Linked DNA regions of Homo sapiens. The protein of the gene in region 1 purifies or fractionates together with the protein of each later gene. This does not show direct contact. Each region holds a gene or a part of one and is shown on either strand. Other genes may lie near its edges. The genes, in order: CSTF1 and CPSF3.

Region 1 (4,512 bases):
TCATATACTTTGTCTCAGTAATTCTGTCTCTAGGAATTTACTCCTAAGGAAATAAAGCTTTCTGTACAAAGGATGTTCATTACAACATTACTTATAATTGATATAAACTAAATGTCAGGAAGTAAAAGAATTGTTAAACAGGCCGGGCATGGTGGCTCACACCTGTAATCCCAGCACTTTGGGAGGCCGAAGCAGGTGGATCACAAGGTCAGGAGATAAAGACCATCCTGGCCAACCTGGTGAAACCCTGTCTTTACTAAAAATACAAAAATTGGCTGGGTGTGGTGGTGTCCACCTGTAGTCCCAGCTACTTGGGAGGCTGAGGCGGGAGAATCACTCGAACCCAGGAGGCGGAGGTTGCAGTGAGCCGAGATCACGCCACTGCACTCCAGCCTGGCGACAGAGTGAGACTCTGTCTAAAAAAAAAAAAAAAAGATCACACACAAAAGAATTGTTAAATAAGTAATGGGGCTTCTAAACATGAGGCACTTTGCATCTAGTAAAAAACATGGAAAAATGTACTCAGCATAAAGTTGGTTAAAACTATAATAGAAAAATATAGTGGCAACAATTTTATATGTATTTTTAAAATGTGTTTTTTTATGCCTCAAAGTACATTAGGACAGTAACAGTATTGCTTCAGGTGATCTGGTGATCTCCTTTTTTTTTTTCCTGATGCAGTCTTGCTCTTGCTCTGTTGCCTGTTGCCCAGACTGGTCTTGAACTCCTGGGCTCAAGCAGCCCTCCTTCCTCAGCCTCCCAAAGTACTGGGATTACAGACGTGAGCCACTGTGCCTGGTTTGATTTTCTTTTTTGTACTTTTTTAGAGTTTCTGAAAGTGTACAAGGTGTATCACTGCAACAGGTTTAAAATGCTTTTACATTGAATGCTAGAACGTTCTGAGGGTCTAAGATGTGGACTTAGAAAGCTATCCCTCTTGCTCTCTGTGGCAGGCGCGGGTTTAAGTGGACGCCAGGTGCACCGGACACAGGCTGTGTTTAACCACACCGAGGACTATGTGTTGCTGCCCGACGAGAGGACGATCAGTCTTTGCTGCTGGGACTCGAGGACAGCCGAGCGGAGAAACCTGCTGTCGTTGGGGCACAACAATATTGTACGCTGCATAGTGCACTCCCCCACCAACCCCGGGTTCATGACGTGCAGCGATGACTTCAGAGCGCGGTTTTGGTACCGGAGATCGACCACTGACTGAGCCACCCTCTCCGTAGGGTTCTTTCTCGAGGACTCTACCCTCCTCCCCCACGTCCTGTCTCAGCTGCAGTCGTAAGTCCGTGCACCATCCTTGACGTTTTGCTGCCACCTCTGTCCACATTCTTCTTGGATTTGTATAAAAGAATCTTTTTTTACCTTGATGTAGAATCATGGTGGAAAAAGTTGGAAACACAGATCTGTGCAGTTCTACATTCACTGATTATTACAGTGTGATTTTCATCGGTTTTGTAAGTACAGGACTTGCCGTTTCTTTTGATCTCTTGATTGAAGGAGGATAGGGCATTAAAGTGCTTTTGACATGAGGAATTTTCATTTGGTTCTTCTGTCAACTTTCTTGCTTATTCTGCTGAACCCTCTGTGTATTTCCCTTCCAGGTATATTTGAACAGATAAGCAGGCATGCAGCTCTGAGACTCCTGAGTTTTATGCCATTATCAAAAGCATTTTCAAGAATCCCTCAATTCTATCCTGAAATGATGTTATTCTGATAATAAAGCTCAGATCTGCAACTTTATTGTTATATATTTTTCACTTCTGTAAAATTAATGGCCAGTTTTTCCTGACAATTTATAGGAACAGTATCTTTCAACATACTCCCTACATTATCCTTCAATATCTGCAATACTTGTCTTTAGTAACTGTATTTCTGGTAAGATTATGATTTCATGAGAAACAATTGAAAATATATCCGATCTAATTAAATTAGGTCAGCCTGCTATTGCTCTCAGGTGTTGCCTGTCTTCACGAATGATTAGTATCGATTGACCTCTTTCTTAGGTGGTTTTAAGTCTTCAGTTCTCGTCAGCATGAACTAACTTCTCATCATGGAGGCACATAGTAACTGCATTCTCAGAAGATTTATGCAGTTAACCAATTGATACAAGTTTTCTTTTTCTTGAATTTTTTTTTTTTTAATTGAGGCACAGTCTTGCTCTGTCACCCAGGTTGGAGTGCAGTGGCGTGATCTCAGCTCACTGCAAGCTCCGCCTCCTGGTTTCACACCATTTTCCTGCCTCAGCCTCCCAAGTAGCTGGGACTACAGGCACCCACCACCACGCCCGGCTAATTTTTTTTTTTTTTTTTTTTTTTTTTGTATTTTTAGTAGAGCCAGGGTTTCACCATGTTAGCCAGGATGGTCTCTATCTCCTGACCTCGTGATCCGCCTGCCTCAGCCTCCCAAAGTTTTGGGATTACAGGCGTGAGCCACCGCGCCCAGCCTTCCTGAAGCTTTTTAGAACATGACAGTACTTCTCTGGATTCAGCACTAGCAGAGTCAGAGAACTCTGAACTCCCCTTGTACAAACATAAACTTTGCTTTATATTTATCCCAAAAAACAAATACCTTATGATCTGCATAGGAGTACCTAGAAATATAATCTGGGATCATTTGATAAAAATAGTAAATAGATTGAAGTAAAAGTCATTGCTTTATATTATAGGAAGTTTTGTTTTGTTTTGTTTTGTTTGTTTTGTTTTTGAGACGGAGTTTCGCTCTTGTCCCCCAGGCTTTAGTGCAATGGCGCGATCTCGGCTCACCGCAGCCTCCGCCACCTGGGTTCAAACGATTCTCCTGCCTCAGGCTCCCGAGTAACTAGGATTACAGGCGTGCGCCACCATGCCCGGCTAATTTTGTATTTTTTTTAGTAGAGACGGGGTTTCTCCATGTTGGTCAGGCTGGTCTCGAACTCCCAACCTCAGGTAATCCGCCCGCCTCAGCCTCCCAAAGTGCTAGGATTACAGGCGTGAGCCACCACGCGCGGCCCCATCATACGAAGTTACTGAAGTTATTGCGTAAACATTCTGTTTTAGTCATCCTTGAGGATCGTTTTAACTCCTTGATCTGTAAAACTGTCTTAAGCATCTTAACATGTTACATCACAGGGTTTTAGCTCAGATTTCCAAAGAGCCATATTTTTTGATGCATATTTCCAGTTGAATTCCAGTGTGAATTTCCAGTTGTACTTTGCATTCTGATTCTTTGATATTTGAACTTGGCCATCTGTGGGTGCTACTCTCGTAAGACTAAAAGGCACCTACTAAATACGAACAAGGATAACCAGTTCTACCAAAAACATTACCAACCAAACCTCCCCTGTTCTTTTTTCAGACTTTCCTTTTGCTTTCAACCTCTTAAACTGTAAAGGAGAGATTTAATGTTTCCCTATTATTCTGCTTTGACTCACATACTAAAATGACCACATGGCACTCCATTGAATCTTTTCAGTTGTTCACGAATTAAAATAATGCCCATGTTTTACAGTTTTTCGAGTAGTCTCAGCAATGGATCTGTAGTTTCAGGACCTGTTTTTAAAAGATCAAGATACTTTTATGTGTTTCAGAAGTAGCTGTTTTTTCATTTTTTGTGGGTTTGTTTTTTTTGTGTTTGTTTGGTTGGTTGGTTTTTGGTTTTTTTGCTTTTTAAAGGTCACAGTGTTGTGAGCCTGGTGTAAATGCCAGGAATATTATATGGACTTAGTATCTGCATCTCGTTAATTGTACCACACAACACTCTGCCATTCAAATAATGAATATCTGGTCAGGATACGAACTTATACCCTCTGTGTGTTTTTTTTTTTTAAGATACGTGATTTCTGAAATAAACTTTATATACAATGATAAGCTAGTTTATTTTTTTTGGAACTTACTTTGAACATTTCCCACATTTGAACATCTGTTCTCAAACAGCAGTTATGACTTTGGTACTGTTCACCCTTTCTTTAGTGCTTTGTTCCAGAAGTCAGGTTTTTATAGCTGGATCACCTTTAGCTCTTTATCTTTGCTCCTCTGCTCTCTATGAATTTTTCTTTTTTTGAAACGAATTCTCACCCTGCCGCCCAGGCTGGAGTGCAATGGCGCGATCTCGGTTCACCGCAACCTCCGCCTCCCAGGTTCAAGCGATTCTCCTGCCTTAGCCCCCTGAGTAGCTGAGATTACAGGCGCGTGCCACCATGCCTGGCTAATTTTTTCTATCTTTAGGAGAGACAGGGTTTCGCCATGTTGGCCAGGCTGGTCTTGAACTCCTGACCTTCTGATCTGCCCACCTTGGCCTCCCAAAGTGCTGGGATTACAGACGTGAGCCACCGTGCCCGGCCGCTCTCTGTGAAGTTAAAGAACTTGAGTATAATTCAGTTTTTTGGCTTATTCAGAGAACGCTATCTTTGCTTACACTTTGGTTTTCCTTAGGAAGAGCAATGTGAGAGAGTCCAGTCTCAGCTCTGTTACTGACTTGGTAAGTAATAGGGCAAGTCATTTTTCTGGGATACAGCTTCCTTTTCTGCGA
Region 2 (7,294 bases), on another chromosome or scaffold:
CAGTAAACGGTTCAGTGCTTCAATTATTTCCTCTAGTAAATGGGAATAATCTATTCCCAGTATCATCTCACAATGATAACCTATATAACATTAATCCACTTGAGAAGTGCTCTGAACTTCTTAGAGAAAAAGGGCATGCAGACAAGGAAAGGAGTGCACTGAGGTACATGGTCTAAAACCGGAGATAAAATCATAAGAGGGTCTGCATCAAATTCCAAGAGAATTCACATCTGCATTTGTGCTACTTATTTTTTGTGCCCTGGAGCAAACTGCAAGAATAAGTGATTTAGTGATATACTTTACAATTCAATGTCTAAAAGTTCCAAATGTATAAGCAGCTGTGAAAAATTTAGGACGTGACACTAGAGCATTGGTTCTCTGGCTGACGTTAGAATCACCTAGCAAACTCGAAAAGGAAAAGGCCAAGCTGCGCCTCCAGATTTTGATTCAACAGTTATTTTCAGCAGCTCCCTAAGTGAGTCTTATTTGCAGCCTGAGTTCAGAGCGGCTGCTCTGGAGTCTGGAAAGCCAGCGGCCCACCCACGTTGTCAGAAGTTCAAGGCTTCCCCAAAGATCTTTCCTAATTAACCCCTTTCACTCTTGCAGTCCACCCTGCTTAGGGGCTTACCTGTGAATTCTAAGACATCAGGGGGACATGAATATCAAATTGTGTTTTAATTTTAAACGAATGCAGCCACAAAGACACCTCTTCCCTAACCAGTTTTCTAAAGCAAACGGAATCCTATGGTGTCAGGGAATCACTTTTTGAGATGTTTATTTTACTCTTTTCTCAGTCTTTAAAAATTTTTTTTTCCTCAGTCTTGATAAAGAAAGTATTGTAATGGAGGTAGGAACTGCAATATTTAAAAGGAACAAGCGTTAACTGTATTTTTATCTTATGTTTCCGTGTTCTGACACTTTGCAAGTCTTAGGGAATTTTTTTTTTTAATAGTACTTGGTGGCACAAAGCTCTGTACTGATTTCTCTGGGGAGAAAAGCGCCACAGCCAGAGGGTACCTTCACGCCTGCGATCTCAATCATGAACATGGCGGCTCCTAGGACGTGACCTGCATGGTAACACCAAAACTTGATTCCCGCAACTTCCTTAACTTCATGAAAGTTGATAGTTTCAATTTTGTCCATGCTTTCTTCCAAATCTGTCTCGGTATACAGCATGTCGTCTGCTGATATGTTACTAAATTTTGAAAGATGCCAGCAAAAACAATTAAGAGTCAGATTTTTTAAAAAGCCTTTGAACACAAAGAAATTGTGGATAACATCTCCATGAAGATATTTCTTTAAAATATACTGTATGAATCATGTATTTAAAATTTCTCAGATATTTTGTGTATTTTTTTTTTACTCTATTGTGTGTATAGCTACAAAACTTGATTTTAAACAAACCACACAGGAAATTAAGACACTGAGCTCAAAGTACTCTCAATTTTCAATAATACATACAATAAATTAAGACAAAATACTCTTTAGGATAGTACTTCTCAAACTTTTTTCCCACCCCAACACTCCTGAAAGATATAACACACTCACATACATTGAACCATGGCAGATATTTCTCACATTAGGATGAGAAAAGATTTTTCTACAAAGTCTAGCACAACCTTTCTCCTGAAAATTATGTTAATGTACTTACAAAAAAGCAAGAGAGAACAGTGGTTAAGGACGCTGACTCTGGAGCCAGATTGTTTGGGTTCAAATCCTTGCTCTGTCTCTTACTGTGACGATTTTAGGCAAATAACCTAACCTCGCTGTGCCTCAGTTTCATCATCTATAAAATGGAATTTATAATAGAACCTACATCATGAGTTGGTGTGAAGATTAAATATATTTATCTCCCGGCTGGGTGCGGTGGCTCAACCCTGTAATCCCAGCACTCTGGGAGGCCAAGACAGACAGATCACCTGAGGTCAGGAGTTCAAGACCAGGCTGGCCAACATGGTAAAACCCCGTCTCTACTAAAAATACAAAAATTAGCCAGGCGTGGTGGTATGCACTGTGTGCCTGTAATCCTAGCTACTGGGGAGGCTGAGACATGAGAATTGCCTGAACCCGGGAGCAGAGGTTGCAGTGAGCTAAGATAGCGCCACTGCACTCCAGCCTGGTCAACAGCACAAGACTCCGTCTCAAAAAAAAAAGAAAAAAAAAAAGAAAAAAAAAATATGTATATTTATTTATCTTTGTGTGAAGTTAATATACATTAGGAATTTAGGATTGGGCCTAGTATGTGGTAAGCATTATTGAAGTGTTAACGAGTGTTACCACAATTAAGCATAACTCTTCCAATCCAGCCTAATGAAGTTTTAAAAGGACACAAAAAGCTATATAAAGACTTCAAGGCCAGGCCAGTGGCTCATGCCTGTAATCCCAGCACTCTGGGAGGCCAAGGCAGGAGGATCACTGGAGCCCAGGAGTTTGAGACTAGCCTGGGCAACATAAGACCCTATCTCTTCAAAAAACAAAAAACTCTGCTGGGTGTGGTGGCACACACCTGTAGTCTCAGCTGCTCAGGAGGCTGAGGTGGAAGGACTGCTTGAGCCCAGGTGGCTGAGGCTGCAGTGAGCTGTGATCACACCACTGCACTCCAGCCTGGATGACAGAGCAAGATCCTGTCTCAAAAAAACCTTCAAGGTCAGGAAGGTGCTAGAAACACAATAGGTTTCAATGACCTTGTTAATGAATGATGAAATTACTGATATCCTTATACATGAAAAGGGAGCACCTCATTTTAAAACACAAAATGGTCCATATCTTGAACCATACATGCCATATAGAGCCAAAGTCGTGTATAATCTAATAAAGTAATTTACCTAACTTTGACATAATCAGAAAGAAGCCATCTATAAATAGCTTTTGTGGCATGAGTCATAAATGTTCTTCCTTTGAAACTTGTCTTCTGTAGAAACCAGGGCAGAGCTCCACAGTGATCCAAATGGAAACTTAAAAAGAAAGAGGCTGCATTAATTCTTAAAATTATTATCCATCAGATACCATGTAATGAAACTGTTGCTTACTGTACAAAACAAGTTTTATATAAACAACTATGTGCTGATACTTTCAGAAAAACCAAGAGTAGGTATGTGTAGAAGGAAGAAGTAATGCATACAGTTCTAAAATGGAGGAAAGATGTTTAAAGTATTGTTTTTAAACAGCAAAAAACTTTATTAGTGAATTAGGGAGGAAGAAGAATATCCCAAGCCTACTCCTGGCAGCCAGAATTACAGCAAACATTTTAACAGAATAAAGTTGAAACATGGATATCTCCCTGAGGTCACTGTCTTGTCACATTTTTCTATATGAACTCTATTTAAAAATAGTTTCAATAAAGGTGAAATGGCGTTCTTATAGAAGAATGTGATAAAACAGTGACCTCAAGGAGATATCCTGGAAAAGGGCTTTCTTAGTCTCAAGTTTTACAATGATTCAAGTTCTGTACTATCTCCTTCTCACATACTCACTGAACTTATACATAGAGGTAGGTAAGTTTTTCATAGCAAACTTCTCTAGCCTGTGATGACATTACGGAGTGTTGGTTTAGACTCAGATGTCTGCAATATGCTTCCTAGCAGAAAACACTCTTTTAAAAAACCAAACTCTCAAAATCTAGTAAAGAATGATCTTGATAGTAAAAGTCCGTGAAAAAGTGTCATTAATAAAGGGAAAAACTTACTGACTAATTAATAGGAGATCAATCTCAGCTGGGTCAATTAAATCAATATAAGGAAGAGCATCCATTCCTTCTAGGCCAGGGTGGATCCCACAGTCGAGCTGAAAGAAACAGGAAAAGAGATCACAATCTCCTGCACATTTTATTAAAATTCATTCGGCAAATAGGCAATAATTCTAGTTCCATCACCCATATACTCAAGATGGACTCCAGGCACTAGCACTTGGAACATGATTCTTATTAAATGTGGCAAATATGCCATTAACAATTCTAACTTCCCAACAAATTTAAAATATAGCTCACATTTAGGGGTCACAGGATGCAAAGTACAAAACAGCTTCTTTCCAGCTACTTTTGGTCGTCATTCTAACAACGAATTAAATCTTTTTCAAAAACTTTGATATCAGATTAAAATTTTAAAAGTTTATAGATTTACTACTACCAGATCGACTCTCGTGAGAAGATAATAATTAGAAATGGGAAACTTACCTGATCAGGGTAATTTAAATATTTTAAGGCATTAGGGAACAAATTCTTAAGACTCAGTCATTAAAGTTACTTATTTTTATGGCGTTACTACCAAATTAACAAAACAGATGACTAAAAGGATGACTATGTCTGACCTATACATGTTCTTTTCAGATTGGGAGGAGTTGAGAAGAAAGAGGAATCAAAGGAATCTGAGACACAGAACTGACTTTCTAATGAGTACCTTAGAAACTATCTCCTCTAACCCCTCTACCTTTCAGGCTTAGAGAAGCAAAGTGACTTGGCCAAGGCCGGCAGCCCCAGTGGGACCTGGGGATCCAAGCTTCTAGGCCAAGGCTTGATCCCCACATGCTGGAGGCGGCTAGAGCTCTCAGTGTGTTCAGAGTGCTTGGGCCCTTGGGATCTTCCACTGGGGGTGGGGCAGTTAGGCTGGCTCAACCCTTCAGGAGTGGAAGAGGGACTTTGAAGAGGTAACAGTTCAACAGATCTAGCTGACAATTTTACAGTCATAGAATATATCTTCTTAATCAACTAAATTACTAAGTAGAAGTGTGTATTAGTTTTTCTCATTAACACTATACAGCATAGATTACATGTACTATAACATTTTTCTGGGAGCTAAAAAGATAACTAGTCTATGAGAAAAGACTAACACCCAATACAGACAGAGCCATACTATTAAACTGAGTACAAAAATAGTAATTACCATTATTTTTCTTCCTTTGAACTCGAGAATAATACATGATCTTCCTACTTCTTGCCCAGCTCCACTGTAAATATTCAAGGGGAGAAAAAGAAGGATTAAAAAAAATCAAAACCAAGTCCAATAAACTTACACTTTTTTACAATGTACACTACATGCCATCTGATGACAGCACCTCACTGAAAAATTCTGAGACGTAAGAGAGTTCTACAAAATCACAAAGACAGGGAAGAACAGTGTCCACATGAGAACAGATGAAAACTGATCCTTGGGAGTCCAGGGATCTTGCAGTTCTTAAAATTAAGAGAGAAGGCGGTACAGATCCAAGAAGCCCAAAGGTTTGGGCTTGATTTAAATTCAATTTTCTGAATTTTAGGATTAAATTATAATGTATTTAAAATGTAAACTAGCAGTTACGCAGATTATATAATAATACTTCTAGAATTAGCACTTAAGTAGAAAGCCATAAGCATTTCAACACTGTCATCTTCTTTAAGATCATAATGTGTATTTGCCAAATGGCTTAAATTTAAATGGCCGGGTGCGGTGGCTCACGCCTGTAATCCCAGCACTTTGGGAGGCCGAGGCAGGCAGATCACGAGATCAGGATATCGAGACCCATCCTGGCTAACACGGTGAAACCCCGTCTCTACTAAAAATACAAAAAATTAGCCAGGCGTGGTGGCGGACACCTGTAGTCCCAGCTACTCGGGAGGCTGAGGCAGGAGAATGGTGTGAACCCAGGAGGCGGAGCTTGCAGTGAGCTGAGATCGCGCCACTGCGCTCCAGCCTGGGCAACAGAGCGAGACTCTGCCTCAAAAAAAAAAAAAAAAAATTTTTTTTTTTAAAATACTTATTCATACTGTGAATTTCAATCACTTTTTCTTCTACTTTCTGTTATTTCAGCATATTTTATACCAACTACTTACATAATTTTTGTTTCTTCTTAATAATTTCAGCCATAATTTGCAATGGTCACAAGGCACACTTTAAGTTAAACCTCATCTTTCAAATCCCTCACCTTCTTTGATGCCTTTTCCCAACCATTCTAGCTCACAATCCACTCACTCACTCAACATTAAGCAGCTTCTATTTGCCAAGCACTGGATTAAGTGCCTAGGACATGGAAATGCCTTACAGGGACCCTGACCTCAAGGAACTCAGTCAGATGGACATGCAATGGATCTATCCCCAAACTGAGATCCTACCTCCAAACAGGTGTTGATACAGAAGATCAAACAACTGTGGATGAGAGCCGCCATAAATTCCTGGCCTTCCACTTTTTAAACATTTTTTATTTGTAATTATTGTGGATACCCTGGCCTTCCACTTTAACTGGCCCTCAATGTTGCCTGGCTGTTTTCTCCATTTCATTTCCATATCAACTATTTTCAAACTTTCTTCCCTTTCCCAAATTTTCCAACCTTCTATCCTCTTCTTCACTTGAGGCATGGGCCATCTTCTGCATCAAAAAAATAAACAGTCCATTTGTAAATTTCCTCAACTTCATGTTGGTACAATAATTAAGAATACATGTACCAACAGGGTACCAACCTGCCCACATCTGTCTCCTTCTATTTCTCCTCTATAGATAGAATAGACCTCTCTTTCCACAATGAAACTTTCCACCATTCTACTCTACGTACTCCCTCCCTCCTTCTGAGGAACTCAACACTGCTGTGTCATTGACATTTTCCTCACTGTCTGCTCTTTACCATCCAATCCAAATTTAAACATACTACAGCCATGTTCATCCCCAAATTAAAATCCCTTGACTCTAAGCTCCTTTAGTTCCCACTTTATTCTTTCCCCAGACCACCTCCCAGGGCAGTGGACCCTCTTGTACTTCCTCACCTTCTACTCGCTCCTCAATTCGCTATACTCTGGCTTTTACCAATCACTTTTCTGAAACTGTCCTTGCTGCTCAGTAGTCATTTCAGTCTTTTTTTTTTTTTTGAGACAAGGTCCCCCTATGTTGCCCAGTCTGGCCTTCAACTCCTGGGCTCAAGTGATCCTCCCGCCTCAGCCTCCCAAGTAGCTGGAACTATAGGTGTCAGTCCCTATCTTGTTCTCTTGGCAGCCGTTGTCACTCCTAAGGAGTACCTGCTCCTTCCTCAAGCACCTCTCCCTTGGCTTCTCTGACCTGATGCTCTCATCTTGTCTTGCTGGCTTTCCTGTTTCCTTCACATATTCAGCCACCTCTGCCTACCCTTTAAATGTTGATATTCCGAGGGTTTGCTCCTTGGCCAACTTCTCAATCTTCATTCTCATCTTTCTGACATGCTAAGGACTTCCAAGCCTGTATTTGTAACCCAGATTGTTCTTCTGAATTCTAGACCTTTAATACATACACGTGACACTAGGTATCTCTACTAGGATCTCTCCCGGGACTTCATATTCAAGATGCCAAACTAGTTTCC

What was found.
Region 2: the proteins of CSTF1 (region 1) and CPSF3 purify together in Homo sapiens (affinity purification with mass spectrometry; 2 studies listed by BioGRID and IntAct, with this or other methods). This does not show direct contact.

The regions. Positions count from the first base shown.
Region 1 is NC_000020.11:56,402,515-56,407,026, forward strand, and holds the end of CSTF1 (cleavage stimulation factor subunit 1), read left to right. Parts: intron 1-953; coding exon 954-1,213; 3' UTR 1,214-3,848; downstream 3,849-4,512. UniProt on the Homo sapiens protein: One of the multiple factors required for polyadenylation and 3'-end cleavage of mammalian pre-mRNAs. May be responsible for the interaction of CSTF with other factors to form a stable complex on the pre-mRNA.
Region 2 is NC_000002.12:9,426,412-9,433,705, reverse strand, and holds part of CPSF3 (cleavage and polyadenylation specificity factor subunit 3), read right to left. Parts: intron 7,174-7,294; exon of another isoform or gene 7,146-7,173; coding exon of another isoform or gene 7,084-7,145; intron 4,942-7,083; coding exon 4,878-4,941; intron 3,784-4,877; coding exon 3,686-3,783; intron 2,955-3,685; coding exon 2,826-2,954; intron 1,196-2,825; coding exon 1,018-1,195; intron 1-1,017. UniProt on the Homo sapiens protein: Component of the cleavage and polyadenylation specificity factor (CPSF) complex that plays a key role in pre-mRNA 3'-end formation, recognizing the AAUAAA signal sequence and interacting with poly(A) polymerase and other factors to bring about cleavage and poly(A) addition.